2 linked regions of the Homo sapiens genome follow. The main gene of each other region encodes a partner of the protein of the gene in region 2 in a complex. Each region holds a gene or a part of one and is shown on either strand. Other genes may lie near its edges. The genes, in order: GNA11 and CRHR2. A codon is read from its position in the direction of its gene.

Region 1 (8,138 bases), on a different chromosome or scaffold from region 2:
ACTGCAGGTGCATCACCACGCCTAGCTAATTTTTGTATTTTTTGTAGAGATGGAATTTCACCATGTTGCCCAGGCTGGTCTTGAACTCCTGGGCTCAAGCAGTCCTCCCGCTTTGGCCTCCCAAAGTGCTGGGATTACAGGTATGAGCCACCATGCCTGGCCTCCGCCCTGGTTTTTTTTCTTTTTTTTTTGATAAAGTAGAGGTCATTTGATGCCCTGTTTTTAAATCACAGCTTTATTGAGTTATAATTCACATTCTATGCACTTCACTTGCTTAAAGTGTATAATTTGGTGGTTTTCGATATGTTTGCATAGTCGTGCAGCCATCACCGCTGTCGGATTCCAGATTTCATTTTCTCAAAGGAAGCCCCTTCCCCATCGGCCGTCACTCCCACCCCCTCCTCCAGCCCCGGCACCCACACATCCCCTTCCTGCCTCTGTGGATCGGTCTGTCCTGAACATTTCATAGAAATGGGATTGCACGCCATGTGGCCTTTTGTGTCCGGCGTCTCTCACTGAGTGTGACGTCCTCAAGGTGCATCCACACAGTGGCCTGTGTCAGAGCCTCGTCCCTGTTCATGGCTGAGTCATGTTCCAGTGCATGGAGGGACCGCGTATTTGCCCATTTATCCCCTGGAGGACATTTGAGTGCCTTCATGTGTGGGCTGTTGGGAACGGAGCTGCCGTGACCGTCTGTGGACGTGTGTTTATGTGGATGATGTGTTCCCTTCCCTCAGTTGCATGCTACGCCTGGGAGCAGAATTGCTGGGTCCCAGGGTGACTCTGGCTTTGCCCTCTGAGAAGCGTCCAGAGAGTTTGCCCCAGTGGCCGCCCTATGGGGCAGGCCCAGCAGCCGTGCAGCCGTGGCTCCTGCCAGTGGCCTCCCTGGGGCCTTTCAGCTGAGGGGCCATTGATCCCGCTTTCGTAGCCCTGCTTTCAGGGGTAGGGCTCTTGCCCTTAGATCTTGGTTTGCCACTTGCCCTGTCTCCCGCTGTGATCTCTTCCAGCTGTGGCCCTCTCTGAGAGTCCATATTCATATTTGGGCTTAGATCTCCATCAGCTTCTGAAACACGCATCTGCAAACTGCAGACTGATTTTGTCGATAAAGTTTTATTGGCACATACCCATTTCTGCCATGTTGCCCATGGTGCTTCAGCAGCAGCAGCAGAGCCGAGTGCTGGAGACAGTCCGTGTGGTCGGGAAGGCTGGGTGTGCTCTCTGGCTCTCTGCAGAAGCAGATTGCTGCTGTCTAATCTGGAAGTTTCCAGGGAGTGGGATTTTTGGGGTTTGTGTCTCTTTTTCCAAGTCCCCCTAGGTGTGCTTATCCCAGCCCAGATTGAGAGGCTGGGGGCAGGGCAAGGGGAGGGCTGAAGTCGGAGTCCGGGGCAGGGAGCGTTGCTCAGAGGGGACAAGCAAGGGCTGAGTCTCCACTCTGGGGGGCCTGGGAGGGCCCCGTGGCTCCCAGAGCCCAGGGCAAGGCTCCCTTCTTTCCCATCTGGGTCCCACCCAGTATGTCCCCTCCCCAGTCCCTCAGCCAAACTGTGGCTGGTCATGTCGGCCTGTGCGCCCCGGGGACGGGGACACAGAGCATCAGGAGGGGAAAGGATGGCCCCCCCACAGTGTCTGCCCCAAAGGGTGTTCACATGTGTGTGCAAGCACGTGTCTGTGCGGTTGGCCTTCCTTTGTGACAGGGCAGCAAGCTGGGGCCTGATGCCACCCGCCGCCCAGGGTTCCGTGAGGGGGAGGCGGCTCGTGTTGGGGCACCATGTAAACTGTTGAGTGCGGCAGCTCGGGGGCCACACGCCGTCCTTAGCACCGGGTGTGGTATCTGCTCTTGATGATGTTTGATAAGCATTTTTCGGACGAAAGAGAGAAGCCGGCGGGGCAGAAACCGAGTCTGGAGCTGCACACTGCAGGCGATGCCGCTGGTTGCAACGTCCTGTGACTGGGCTTCCTGCCTCCCGGTGTGTCTGGAGAATTCGAGGCAGCGAGTGCTGGGGCTGTTGGTTAGTTCTGTCGTCGTGCTTGGTCGTGCTCGGCGCTGCACTGCCCTCCTGTGGGTCCTGGGTTTGAAGTGTGTGTGTTCTACACGTGCTTGTTCCCCACACCGTCCCCTCCCCACCTCTAAGAAGTGAATCGAAGCCCGGCCTCCCCGGCACCCTGCAGACCGCACCGCCGGGAGGCTTTGCTTGTGGGGCCTTGTTCGGAGGAACCACACCGCCAGGCGGCCTCGCGTTTTTCTGACACGTGTTCACACGGAACTGTCAGTGGTCCTGACTGCACAGCCTGCGGAATGCCGCCCGGGCCAGCCGAGGCCTGGAAGAGGGGCCGTCACAAGCTTTCTGGTGGATGTGTGGCCCCAGCGAGCTCTCGACGTCTCCCCTGCCCGCCCTCGCAGGCCAATGCGCTCCTGATCCGGGAGGTGGACGTGGAGAAGGTGACCACCTTCGAGCATCAGTACGTCAGTGCCATCAAGACCCTGTGGGAGGACCCGGGCATCCAGGAATGCTACGACCGCAGGCGCGAGTACCAGCTCTCCGACTCTGCCAAGTAGTAAGTGCGGCCGCACCGCTGGCGGCCTGGGGACGGCAGCTGCGGGCCGGTGCCTGGGACCCTTCGGGAAGGCCTCCGCGGCGTCTGTGGTGCCCCCTGCCTGCTCGCCGGGGGCAGGGATGCGGTGGGCCCGGGCCACCTGGCCGGATGGAGGGACCAGAGCAGATCCCTGGAGGGGCCACGCCTTGGCAGGAGCCGGTGGACTCTGGTGTGACACTGGCCTGCTTGTATGCCTGGCCCTGCCGCTGCCCTCCCTGGGTCAGGAGTGAGCTCCTGGCCACCCTCGGTGCTGGAGCCCGGCCTGTGGCCTGTGGGGGAAACCCAGGGTCTCCTAGGAGGGCCGTGGGATGGGAGGTAGACACAACCTGGGCCGTCTCGCTCCTGCCTGGGACATCGTCCCCAGAGCCACGTCTCCCACTAGTGACTGGCTGTGACCTTGACTGATGTCAGGGTTCTCCCAGTCTCTGGGCCTGGGATAGGGGGTGACTTGTGTGCTGACAGGTGGCCGGGCCATGGCCGCAGGTGGAGGCCCCCGCGTGGCAGGCTGTGCACTGCTGCCCTCCATGCTTGGCAGGCAGAGGCCCCGGCCCTCCCCCAGCACCGGGAGAGACCCTAAGGCGACAGGGACAGGCCTGTCCCCCGCCCCTCCTGCCCGTCCTCTGTGTGTTCCCTGCCTCTGGGAGGTTGTGGGAGGGCCCAGATAACCAAGCACTTGGAACAAAACGCCAGGGCCTCCTCGCGGTGCCGGAAAGGTCTGAGCAGGCACCCGGCCTCTTACAACCCCCACCCCAGGCAGACCACTCGAGGGGCGCCCCACTCAGGACTGCCCAGGGCGTCAAAAACGGGAAACTGTCCCAACCCAGAGGGCTGGGCAGGAAAAGGCATGAGGGGAACCAAGGAAGCCGGAATCAAGCGTGGACTTCAGTAGCTGCGCTGTGTAGACACTGGCTCATTGCTCGTGGTGGGTGCCGCACCCACGTACAGGGAGCAGCAGGGAGACGGGCACGGGGATCTGCTGGGACCTCTGCAGCCTCTGCAGCTGCGACTCTCCTAATGATGCGCTTGTTTGTGAAGCCTCATCCCTGGGGCCAGCCAGGCCTCTCTCGGGAAGTCCCCTGCCCTGGGTCACCGTCTCCCTCCTTGGTGGCCGTCTCTGGACAGCTCTACTACAAACCCCCCGAACCAGCTGGAGTCCTCGTCCTGGGACTTTCTCTTGTGCTGGGTCATTTCTGTCCCCTGAGACCCCAGAGAGGATAGAGGTTGGGAGGCTCGTATCCCGACCCCAGGGTCTCCATTGGCCCGAGCCCTCCGGGCTGCTTCAGACACTGCCGTAGGTGGCGCAGTGCGCGGTCCACCCCCTCCTGGTGGCTTTCCGTCCTCCCGCTGGTTTGGGTGCTGTGTCCCTGTCCTGCCCCCCCACCCCCGGCAGCCGGCCTGAGCACCCACCGCTGTGTTGCAGCTACCTGACCGACGTTGACCGCATCGCCACCTTGGGCTACCTGCCCACCCAGCAGGACGTGCTGCGGGTCCGCGTGCCCACCACCGGCATCATCGAGTACCCTTTCGACCTGGAGAACATCATCTTCCGGTACCGCCCGGGCCACAGCAGGCGGGGAGGGGGCACTGAGAGGCTCATTTGCCCGGTGTGCCGGCTCATGCCTGCGCACCCAGTGCTTTGGGAGGCCAAGGCGGGAGGATCGCCTGAGTCCAGGAGTTTGAGACCACCCTGGGCAACATAGCCAGACCTCATATCTAAAAAAAATTTTAAAAATTAGCTGGGCGTGGTTGTGTGCACCTGTGGTCCCAGCTACTCAGGAGGCTGAGGCAGGAGGATCGCTCAAGCCCAGGAGGTTGAGGCTGAAGTGAGCCATGATGGCACCACTGGACTCCAGCCTGGGCGACAGAGGGAGACCCTGTTTCGTCTTATTAAACAAAAGAAAGCCCATTGGTCTTCATCCTCAGTGTGTGTTTGACCAGGTCAGGGGATAAGATTTATCTCTAAGTATGTGTGAGCCAGGGCCACACAGGGAAGGAGCTGTGGGGGTGTGGGGGGCGTGGCCACATCCATCCAGACCGGCAGCCGAAGAGACCTGGCAGGGAGGACATTTGACAGGGCCTCCAGGACGGGCCGGGGGCCTGGTTGGAGCCAGCATGGGGCTGGGGTCTGGAGTGCTGGCCGGAGCAGGGGGTGCCGCATGGTGCGGGAGGGGTCATAGGGACTGAGGCTGCCAGGGGAGGGGGCTCATGGGGACCGAGGCTGTGAGGGGAGGAGGGGTCATAGGGACCGAGGCTGTGAGGGGAGGGGGGGGGTCACGGGGACCGAGGCTGTGAGTGGAGGAGGGGTCATAGGGACTGAGTGGGGAGGAGGGGTCATAGGGACTGAGGCTGTGAGGGGAGGAGGGGTCATAGGGGCCGAGGCTGTCAGGGAAGAGGGGTCATGGGGACCGAGGCTGTGAGGGGAGGAGGGGTCGTGGGGACCGAGGCTTTGAGGGGAGGAGGGGTCATAGGGACTGAGTGGGGAGGAGGGCTCCAGGCTGGGGTGGAGGAGCTGGGTGGTGTGGGGTGGATTCTGTTCTTCACGGGCTGCCCCTGCGGATCCTGCTGGGCCTCCGGGGCTCCAGGTCCACTGTGGCTGGGGGCCGGCCAGCAGAGCCGGGTTCTCCCTGGGGACCCTCAGTGGGTCCTGTGTCTGGTAGGCTGCTCAGCTGGCTGGACTCTGCTGTCCCTGGGAACGTGGACCCTGCCTGCCTGTCTCCTGGCCCCATATAACATCTCCAGCGCTGAGGTCCCGGCTTTATGCGTGCCTGTCCTGGGCTGCTGGTGTCGGGCGTGAGACTCCCACCGCAGGCCTTATTCCCGCCCAGTGCTGGAGGCCAGAAGGCTGAGATGCAGGTGTGGGCCGGGCCAGGTCCTTCTGAGGCTGAGGGGATCTGCCCAGGCCTCACTCGGCTCCTAGTGGCGGCCGCATCCTTGGCATCCTTGGCATCCTTGGCATCCTTGGCTTGTGGCCGGGTTGCCTCATCCCTGCCCCCATCCTCATGCAGCGTCCTCCCCGCCTGCGCCTTTGCCTCTGTTCTCTTATAACCTGTCCTTGGCCAGGGCCACCCTACCTCTGTGTGACGTTATCCTAACCAGTGACATCCGCACAGACCCTGTTTCCAGATCAGAGCCGTCCCCGGGTTCTGGTGTTCGTGCGTGTGGGGCGCTAGACGGCTCTGTCCTGGAGGGCCTCGCGGTGGCTCCGGTTGCGGGTGCCTTCTCCTGCAGTGCAAGCTCGCCCTGGCACTGGCCCTCATGAGGGAATGACGCCTCCCTGCCAGGGTGTCCCCACCCAGCTGGTGCACTGCCGAGGCCATTGTGAGGGTTCCGGGAAGTCTGTGGGGTTTTCCTCGAGAGCCCTGCCTTGAGACCCACCCCAGGGCTGGGGGTGCCACCCCCTGCCATCTGCCTGTTCTCCCCACCCGTCCTCCCAGCTCGGCCTCCCAGCGCAGGCAGGGAGGATGCGGCGTGAAGATGGAGGCAGGGATGGAGCAATGTGGCCACAAGCCAAGGAATGCCAAGCTCTGGGATGGTTCCCGGGGACCCGAGCAGGCGCTGGGCCCTCAGAAGCTGCGGTGTCCTCTCTGGACATGGGCGATGGTGTATATTGTTACGAGAATTCAAGTTTTTCTTCTTTTTTATTCACACGGGGCCCATGACCCCAGGATACAGCTGAGGCGAGCCAGGCATAGGCCAGGTTGTGGCATGAATGTCCCCTCACAGCCCCACGCTGGCCTCTTAACAGCGCAGGCCTCTGTGTCCTCTGTCAGAAATGTCCTGTCCCCTCCCTGAGCTGAGCTCAGGCTGGGTGTGTCACCCCCTCTCCACCATCTTCCAGGCCCTTCCCAGCTCCAGCTGTGCCCTTTTCTTTTTTTTGAGACGGAGTCTTGCTCTGTCGCCCAGGCTGGAGTGCAGCTGTGCAATCTGGGCTCACTGCAAGCTCCGCCTCCCGGGTTCACGCCATTCTCCTGCCTCAGCCTCCCGAGTAGCTGGGACTATAGACGCCCGCCACCACGCCTGGCTAATTTTTTGTACTTTTTAGTAGAGATGTGGTTTCACCATGTTAGCCAGGATGGTCTCGACCTCCTGACCTCGTGATCCGCCTGCCTCGGCCTCCCAAAGTGCTGGGATTACAGGCGTGAGCCACCGCGCCCGGCCCGGCTGTGCCCTCTGTGCCGGGTGCAGACCCCCGTCCTGAGCCTACTCCTCTGCCACCATTGTTTCTCTGCCAGCCGCCTCTGTCCACCACACGCTGGCAGAGGGCCGGCCAGGTGCTGTGGGATGCAGCTGGAGGCCTTGAAGGCCGGTGGGATCGTCCCAGTGCGTGAGGAGAGGCTCCTGCTCCCTCAGGTGGGGACAAGACACGGGGGGACCCGGATCCCAGCCCTGCCGGCCGCCGCAGGCGTGCAGGAGAGGCCTCGCGCTCCAGACGGGCTGTGGCCTGGTGTCGGCACACCCACTGTCCTCCCGCCTGGCCACAGCTGCTGGTGCGGGCCCTCTTGTCCCTTAGAGTCACCTGGCACATCTGTCATCCACCGGTGCCTGCTGGACTCCCCCGCAGACCAGACCAGGTGGATTTCACCACTCACATGCCCAAAGCAGCCCCGCTCTCCTCGGCAGAGTTGCAGGGACCCCGGCCTTCCCTGGGGCCTGGGGCCAGGGCCTGAGGGGCACTCTCCGCTTCTGCCTTTGTATTCTTTCAAGGAGACCAAAGTGCCTTTTCTCGTTATAGAAAACTTAGAAAAGTCACAAGTAGAAAGAGGCAAACGTCCCGTAAGGAACGCACGCCCGCAGACATCGTCTGAGCTGATTTTCTTTCTCCCGCCTGTGCGTGGCCTGAGAGTGTGAGGTTGAGCTGCTCACCACGCGGGGCAGGGCGCTGCGCCTGCTCTTCTGCCCCAGGAGGATACCGGCAACTCTGCCCTCTGCAGCCGTCACTGGAGGGTCCCTGCAGGGAGCAACTGTGGCATCAGTGTTTACTCCTGCGAGTGACGCTTGGTGAACATCTGTGTCCCTGGCCCAGTGAGGGGAAAGGCTTCTGTGCTCAGGGTGACATCCAGATGCCAGATGTAGGGTCCCTGGGCACCCATCGCAGGTTCCCGCAGCAGCTGGCGCCCAGAATCCTCTGGGTTCTCACACCCCCACACTAGCGCCCGCTTCCCTGGGCCCAGTGGTCTCAGGCCCCTTTGCCAGTGAGGGAAGGGTCTGCGGTGGTCACCCCTGGAGGCGGTGCGGCCGCTCTCTGAGAGCGTCCTTGCCCGTTCTAAGAGTGGGGGCTCTTCCTGCTCCAGCCGATGTCAGTCTGGTGTGGCAGGAGGGGCTTGGGTGGGAGCCGTCCTGGGATTGCAGATTGGGCCTTGGGGCGCCAGGTGGCTGAGTCCTGGCGCTGTGTCCTTTCAGGATGGTGGATGTGGGGGGCCAGCGGTCGGAGCGGAGGAAGTGGATCCACTGCTTTGAGAACGTGACATCCATCATGTTTCTCGTCGCCCTCAGCGAATACGACCAAGTCCTGGTGGAGTCGGACAACGAGGTGGGCCCTGCCCTGA
Region 2 (8,138 bases):
GGTTGAATTTGCAGGAAGCCTGACTTCTTGCTGGTGTTGTCATTGTTGGTGTCATGGGAAAGGATTGGCAGTCACTAGGCCAGACACAGGTCTTAGTGGTCTCTGTGACTATTTCAGCCCATGCTGATCTTCTAAGGCAAGCTCTGTGGTTAGGCCCCTCGGGGGCAGACAAGGAAGCAGGAGCTCATGAGGTTAAGCAACTTACCCAAGGCCACACAACTGCAAATTGGAACAGTCAAAATTTGAGCCATGAGACTAGGACTTGGTGCTTCAGTTCATTTGGGAGGGGGGCCTCATCTTCAGTTCTTAGCCCATCTGCCATTTCTCCAGGTCTTTTTGACACCTTAGGAAAGATGTCATCTCCCCCACCCCCAACCCCTCCAGGCCCCCAGCTAGGCCACAAGCCCTCTGCAAGCAGGGGCTGTGACTGCCTGTCCACTTCGCCATCGCTGATGCCTGGCTCAGAGCCTGACACATGGTCCATTGATTCATTGAATGAATGAACAATTAAATAAAACCAGAAACAGGCTGAACGAGGGCAGGGTACAATAGACAGTTCTTACTAAAGAACTGGAGTGTGTTTTTAGCAGGGAGGTAGAGTCCAAGAATGGAAAGCCGGAGAGCTCAGTGTGGGCAGGGTGACCAGAAGGCTCCCTGGAGAGAGAGGAAGGTACCTGTGGTGGTGTGAAGGGGGAGGCTGGGAAACAGGCTCAAAGGAAAGAAGGATTTTCAGGTTACATAGACCCAAGCTGAGATGAGTGGGGCCACATAACTAAATGTCTGCCAAGTGTAAGGATGGAGACAAGGCCTTGGTTGCTAGGTAGATGAATGGATAGACGGATGGGCCAGTGGATGGGCAGATAAAAGAGTAGGTGGATAACTGAATGGATTGGTTATTGGGTAGGTAGATGGATGGGTAGATGGATGGGTACGTGGATGGATAGATAAAACAGTAGGTGGATAATTGAATGAATTGGTTGTTGGGTAGATGGATGGATGGATGGAAGGAAGGAAGGATGAATGGATGAATGGCTGGATGGATGGATGGATGGACGGATGGATAAAAGTAGGTGGGTAAATGAATGAACTGGTTGGTAGGTAAGTGGATAGATGGATAGATGAATAAAGTGGGTGGATAATTGAATTGATTAGTGGGTTGATGGATGTTGGAAGATTAATATTGAATTCAAGAAAATGTGGCAGAAATGAGAATATATTTTGATTCCAACAGTTTCTACTCTCAGGGAAGTCCGGAAGAATCAGAAAAGGTCAAATACTTTGTATTACTTGTATGAGAAAATTAGGATTCACTTATATGTTAAGGTGACTTGTGTCCCATGATCCAGGGGAATATGCCAGAGACCCAGGAGCTGGAAATTAGGTGAGCCCTAGGAGAAAGCTGGGGGTATCAGGTCATGGCAGCCCCGCTGAAGGCTTTCCATCCCCAGCCCTCCCTGGGACCCCCAGGCCATACCACTATGTGGTAAGAGAGCAGTAGACAGTGGCTGAGGTGGGGTGTGAGCTCTCCCTGCCCCTAGGGCTACCCGAAAGCTTGTGGGGAGCATCCAGAGGCTACAGGTTGACAGTCTCAGGATATCTGTCTGTATCCTGTGTCCCTCCTCTCCCAGCCAGGATTCAGAACTTGGGAGGGTTAGAAGGGCCCAGCCCAAGCTTAAGAAGCAATGGATTTTCTTGACAGAGTGTCAGAGGTGTGTGTGTGTGTGTGTGTGTGTGTGAGTGGGTGTGTGCACACGAGCCAGCAGACACCCCTGGGCTAACATGTGTCTCCCTCTGGCCCACGAGCACTTTGTCAGGAAACAGCCCCACTGTGTCAGGCCGACACACACTCCCTTGCCTGCCTGCCTGCCTATGCTCGGAGGCAGGTGAAGAGAAACGCAGATGTGCCCGGGCCCCAGATCCATGCTCACACATGCACACGCTCTGTGAGGCAAACACACTTGCACAAGTGCTTAAAGGATAGACCCACAGACCCACACTGCAGCTCCCAGGGGACAACACAGTCATAGTCACAGCCAATACAGATGAACAGACACTCGCAGGCCCATGGGGACCCACACCCAGCAGGGAGCAGCTGGGGAGCCACACAGGCCAGTTCCAGGGCCAGGTGCTGGGTGGGGAGGCTCTGGTGCTGAGGGAAAACTCAGAATGAAGATAAATGAGGCCCTTCCTGGGGCCTCAGAGCCAGCCCCACAGCCCATCCATCTTCCCTGTCTAGGGTGCCTACGAAGGCTCTGGAGTTCCTGGGCACAGGGGTGGGATGCTGGCAGATTAATCACTCATTCGGCAACTGAGTTCTTAATCCCTCCATCTGGCCTTGTCCGCCCCACCATGGCAGTGCTGTCCTCAGTCAGAAGGACCTCAGGCCGACCTAGAGCCAGTGACAGTGCAAGGGACTCAGAGAGCCCCGCAGTCAACAAGTAGGGACCCCGTGGCAGTGAGGGGAAGGGGGCTCCCATAGGGTCCCTATACTGGGGAGAGGGTTGGGGGCTTTCTCAGCCTCAGAGGGCATGCCCCGTGCTCTCGGTCACGACCCACAGAGGCTGCCACCTTTCCTCCTCAGTCCTGGGCTGGAGACACAGGCCCTGGAAAATGGGGCTGTCTCCCCATCCTGGCGAGGGAGGAGCACAGGCCTTGGGATGCTGGCAGGTGCTAGGGGGACAGGTAGGATAGGTGTGTGCGTGGGACATCGGTTTCCAGGGGTCTGCGGGGAAGGGGGCTGCCTCTCGGCTCATCTCAAACACGTGCTCCTTCCTTTTCCCTCTTTCCCATGCCCGCCCTCCCTCCAGATCAATTTCGTATTTCTGTTCAACATCGTCAGGATCCTAATGACAAAGTTACGCGCGTCCACCACATCCGAGACAATCCAGTACAGGTATGTGAGGGGGTCCCTTGACCCCACAATGGGGACAGGAGGAGGTCATCGGGCCGTCCCCCTGCTTCCTGGCAGAGCCCTCTGCCCCAGGCCTCACCCAGGGAGCTCGCTCAAGCTCCCGGAAGAAACACCACCACTGTCTCCCGCCGCCCACTGGGTGAGGCCCTGCCTGCCGCATGGGCTCAGACCTGTGTCCACCTCTCGCCCCCAGGAAGGCAGTGAAGGCCACCCTGGTGCTCCTGCCCCTCCTGGGCATCACCTACATGCTCTTCTTCGTCAATCCCGGGGAGGACGACCTGTCACAGATCATGTTCATCTATTTCAACTCCTTCCTGCAGTCGTTCCAGGTGGGGCCTGTGACCAGATGGGGGCCCCACAGTGAGCTTTCCTGAGGCTGCTCTGGCAGCCATGCCCTCACTAAGGGGGTCCCGTGGGACTGGCACACCCATGGCTCAGTTACATCCACAGAGTTAGAAGCCCGTACATGCTCAGCCTGAGCCTGGCCAGTTATCCCCATCCCAGCCTGGGTCTTCATCCTACCAGCCCGCACCTACTGTCCCAGCACCTGTTCTGAGGATGCAGGCAGCCCAACCAAATGCCCTGGGACAGGTCACACAATATTGAGGAGACCGGAGTCTGCCTGGCTCCAGGCCTGTGACCACTGCTCACTCAGAGTGGACCGTGGAATATCTGCACCCTGAGGCTAGGACCCCACCCAGCTCTGACTCCAGGGGTTCCTGGGTCAAATTGTCCCCCCCCCACCATCTTGTCCCCAGTGCCACCCCACCAGGCAGAACAGCTCCGCAGGTAGGTCACTGACCACTCCCTCCTTTCCCTCCTTTCCAGGGTTTCTTCGTGTCTGTCTTCTACTGCTTCTTCAATGGAGAGGTATGAAGCTGGGCCCTCGGGGTGGCCTGGGATATCCAGGTCCTCAGACCCCACTCCAGGGCAGCTCCATTGGTGCTGCCCGGCCTTGCTGGAGTGCCAGGGAGAGGAAGCCTTGAGATACCACCCGGCCTTAGGGGAACAGGAATCCTTCTCACAGGGGCTGGAGCCAGTTTAGAAGGTCAACTATGCAGCCCCGAAATAACATGCCAGCACCCCACATGTGCACTCAGAGCTGGGTGAGCAAGGAAGCCCAGGCCGCAGGGCCTCATGGAAGAGAGAAGCCAGAGCAGAGGTGGTGACAGAAGGAAGCTTCCAGAAAGAGATGTGTGCCAAGCAATCAGGTCTGTATGGACTCAGGGAGCAGAAGAGAGACCAGCACATTCCCCCGCTACCTGCCACAGAAAAGCCCACACACCAAGAGCAGGCTCTGGGGAGTCAGGCGGCCGTGAAGCTTGGCATGTGCAAGCCAATCATGAGGCCCAAAGCCCCAGTGCAGCTGACGCAGGGAAGAAGCGCACTCGTACCTGGGCTGGGGTGGATGAGGACATGGAGCAAAGAGCAGACACAGCCCCTAGGGCCTGGGAGCTTCCGAACACTCCAGAGGAATACACTTGCCTGTCTCTGCACAGGGCACTGGCGAGGTGTCTATGCAGGCCTGTGTCTCTGTGGATGATAGCACATTCCACTTGCAAAGTCCATCAGCAGAGACGGGTCCTGTGGGCTGGATGAGAAGAAGAGAGGGGGCCAGTAAGGCAAACAAACAAGGGATGTTTATGGAGCATTTATTCTGTTCGAACCATGTGCAAGCTAGGATGTGAGAGACACCATCCAATTTCCAAAAAAATTCAATTACCAAACAAATGAAGCTTAAATGGCACCGGGTAGAGCCAACTTTAGAAATGACCAAGACAGAGAGCTTTCCCTTTCAGGCAGTAAATGCCATGGTTAGTCAGGCAGGGGAGTCTAGCAGGAGGTAGAGAAGGTGGAGGGGTGCAGAGGGGACGGTCTTCAGGAGGGAGGAGGAGGCGCACCAGGTGTGTGAGCTGGGCGCACACCACCAACGCCCTGCAAGGAGCAGGGGCCCAAGAAGGCTGAGGGGGCCAAGTCTCCAAGCTGCGCTCTCTGGTCCCAAGATGCTAATTTTGAGGTGGCAGAGTGAGTCAGGGAAGGGAAGGCAGTGTGTCCAGAGGAAACTGGATGATCTGGGAGGACAGTGTGGAGTAAAGGAGGTGTGGAGTCAAGCTTCTCCAGGAAAAGGATAAGGAAGAGGCCCCTGGAGAGAGGCAACAGCATCAGGGAAGGACCTGTTTTGGAAGCAGACAGTTCCTTGTCATGAGGGTGGCAGTCGACCCATGAGAGCAGAAAGCAGAGGAGGGGATGGTCCCAGAAGCCCAGGGTTGGTCCCTGGGAGCCAGCTGAGCCTCTGCCTTCCCCACAGGTGCGCTCAGCCGTGAGGAAGAGGTGGCACCGCTGGCAGGACCATCACTCCCTTCGAGTCCCCATGGCCCGGGCCATGTCCATCCCTACATCACCCACACGGATCAGCTTCCACAGCATCAAGCAGACGGCCGCTGTGTGACCCCTCGGTCGCCCACCTGCACAGCTCCCCTGTCCTCCTCCACCTTCTTCCTCTGGGTTCTCTGTGCTGGGCAGGCTCTCGTGGGGCAGGAGATGGGAGGGGAGAGACCAGCTCTCCAGCCTGGCAGGAAAGAGGGGGTGCGGCAGCCAAGGGGGACTGCAAGGGACAGGGATGAGTGGGGGCCACCAGGCTCAGCGCAAGAGGAAGCAGAGGGAATTCACAGGACCCCCTGAGAAGAGCCAGTCAGATGTCTGCAGGCATTTGCCCATCCCAGCCTCTCTGGCCAGGGCCTTACTGGGCCCAGAGCAGAGAAGGACCTGTCCAACACACACAGCTATTTATAGTAGCAGACACAGGGCTCCCCTGCCCTACTCATGGAGCCAGCAGCCAGGCAATGGTGTGGCCCTGCACTGGCCCTTGGCCTCCACACTCAGTGGTGCCCCTGCAGTTGGGTGGGGTACGCCAGCAAAGGATCAGTTTGGCTGCCTTATCCCAGGGGCTGTCACCTAGAGAGGCTCACTTGTACCCCACCCTTGTTCCTGTGTCCCCTCCCCAGCCATCCTCCCGCCTTGGGGGCTCCATGAAGGATGCAGGCTTCCAGGCCTGGCTTCCTCTCTTGGGAGACCCCTTCTCTGCCTAGTCCACAGATTAGGCAATCAAGGAAGACGCCATCAGGGAAGCCACATCCTTAGTCAACCAGTTGCATCGTGCGGGGCAAAATGAGGAGCAGAGGCATGGAGGAGGGAGGCGTGGGATGGGAATAGCAGAAACCAACCATGTCTTCAGTGATTGAAACTCATACCCCATTGCCCTTTGCCCTCCAGTCTCCCCTTCAGAAACATCTCTGCTCTCTGTGAAATAAACCATGCCTCTTGGAAGTGGCCTCCCCTCAGGTCAAGTCACCCAGGCACCCGAAGAGTGGTGTGGGCCAAGGATCGTGGCTGGGTCTGAGGGGGCCACATCCATCTTCCTTAGTGGGCTCGGGCCCTGGCCTCGGGCCAGTTCTCTCTCTCTCTGACCTCTGGTAGGTTTGGAGTCTTTATGGTCAAAGCACCTGCAGGCGGGTCTGTCCCTTATCACTCCAACCAGGCTAATACCTGGCCCCAGCCCCCAACCAAGGGCAGCTTGATTCAGCCTGGAGGAGGTGTGCAGCTCATCCAGCAAGCCAGGGCCTGTCCCAAAGGCCAAGGCTCTGGAATCTGGTGGGCAGGGTAGACATGGCCCCTCAGTTGACCACCAGGGCAGCTTCCAGGCTTGGCTTCCGTCCCTGTGTCCCTGCAGCGGAGCCGCAGGAGTCAGGGAGAGAGAAGCATCAGGCCATTTCTTCCAAAAGAAACCAATGCTCTAGGTACCCCCTACAAAAATAAGTTTTGAAAAATCATGTATCCCGTCTTGCACATTTTTAAGTTGACATGTAGTATTTTTTACTTAAGTTTTAAATCCTTCAAAGGTGTGATTTCTGCCATTTTGTAAATATTTACATTTTTAAATAAAACTGCTGCAACAATTTAAAATACATCAAATGAATTCTGATCACCATGGTGATTTAACACCCACCCTCATCTATTTTAAAAACACCTGACCCAGCTCTCCTTCTTCTTCTTTTTTTTTTTTTTTTTTTTGAGACAGGGTCTCACTCTGTCATCCAGGCTAGGGTGCAGTGGCAAGATCTCAGTTCACTGCAACCTCCACTTCCCAGGCTCAGGTGATCTTCCCAACCCAGCCTCCCGAATAGCTGGGACTACAGGCACGCACCACCATGCTGGGCTAATTTTTGTATTTTTTTGTAGAGACAGGGTCTGGTCATGTTGCTCAGGCTGGCCAGCTCCGCTTTAATTGTGGGAAATGTTACATTGTTTCTTTCCTCTTTAATGTGTAGCTTCATTCCATTGCCCTATAGAATTTTATACTAATGCATTACTTTTATGGCTGAAAGTGTTTTATTGCTCACTTTGTCATACTTCTCTGCCACACAATATATGTATGAATGAAAATTAAAATATTTCATTTTCTATGACCAAAGTTTCAAGGGATTTTAAAATAATCTTCTGGGTTGAATTATTACAATTATTTTTTGATACAAAATACAGTAAGCCACTGATTAAAACAACATAGATACCTAAAGTTTTTATAAGTAACTAGTTAAACCTAAAAAGGAAAATGTATTGAAAACACAGCTTAATGAAATGGATAGGAAGTTAATGGCTCATGAATCTACAGGTGAATATTTATTGCTAGAATAAATCAGGACTCAGCATCAATTCTTTTCTTTTTTAATGTTTTATTGTTTATAGTGGGGTGTGCTGAGAAGCCTTTTCAATTCAGTAGATGATCTGGCACTCCAGATAGTCAATTCTCTATACTCTTGCTGAGATGTACAGTCAAAACTGCATAGTGATCTGTCACCAAAAATGACCTATCAGCTGGCTGTTTAATTAAGTGTCCTTTCAATTTGGCTGAAAAAGATGAACTGAACGTTATCTGACTTGCAGTAGGCTTTGGGCGCCCATGTCATCAGCTCATTCCATTTTTCACCACCAGCTGTGTGGGAATGCACTGCAGGTTAAGTGTGAGCCCTGCTTCTCTTGTCAAGAGGGCAGGGAGGTTGGGGCACCCTGATTTTATTTTCTCAAGTGACAGAACTCAGAACTCAGGGTATCTTAGAAAGTCTTACTGCATACCCAGTGGCAGCATGATGGCCGCATCCATTAGCATCATCAGGGCTCTTGTAGAACAAGGAGCCGCAAATGGTTTGGCCCCCAAGAGGCCACTTGGAGA

Evidence for each region.
Region 1: the proteins of CRHR2 (region 2) and GNA11 are in contact, whole or in part, in a cryo-EM structure (PDB 7TRY), measured with the Homo sapiens proteins. Residues at the interface, in NP_001874.2 of Homo sapiens: Arg148, Tyr208, Leu209, Ala212, Ile213, Thr216, Glu220, Lys293 (codon at 2,853), Lys307 (codon at 3,106), Ala311 (codon at 3,118), Phe358 (codon at 3,758), Tyr359 (codon at 3,761), Phe362 (codon at 3,770), Asn363 (codon at 3,773); in NP_002058.2 of Homo sapiens: Arg37, Ile348, Leu349, Asn352, Leu353, Glu355, Tyr356, Asn357, Leu358.

The regions. Positions count from the first base shown.
Region 1 is NC_000019.10:3,110,932-3,119,069, forward strand, and holds part of GNA11 (guanine nucleotide-binding protein subunit alpha-11), read left to right. Parts: intron 1-2,398; coding exon 2,399-2,553; intron 2,554-4,012; coding exon 4,013-4,141; intron 4,142-7,992; coding exon 7,993-8,122; intron 8,123-8,138. UniProt on the Homo sapiens protein: Guanine nucleotide-binding proteins (G proteins) function as transducers downstream of G protein-coupled receptors (GPCRs) in numerous signaling cascades.
Region 2 is NC_000007.14:30,650,682-30,658,819, reverse strand, and holds the end of CRHR2 (corticotropin-releasing factor receptor 2), read left to right. Parts: exon of another isoform or gene 1-2,807; coding exon 2,808-2,893; exon of another isoform or gene 2,894-3,104; coding exon 3,105-3,240; exon of another isoform or gene 3,241-3,739; coding exon 3,740-3,781; exon of another isoform or gene 3,782-3,938; coding exon of another isoform or gene 3,939-3,956; exon of another isoform or gene 3,957-4,011; coding exon of another isoform or gene 4,012-4,080; exon of another isoform or gene 4,081-4,681; intron 4,682-5,219; coding exon 5,220-5,360; 3' UTR 5,361-6,878; downstream 6,879-8,138. UniProt on the Homo sapiens protein: G-protein coupled receptor for CRH (corticotropin-releasing factor), UCN (urocortin), UCN2 and UCN3. Has high affinity for UCN.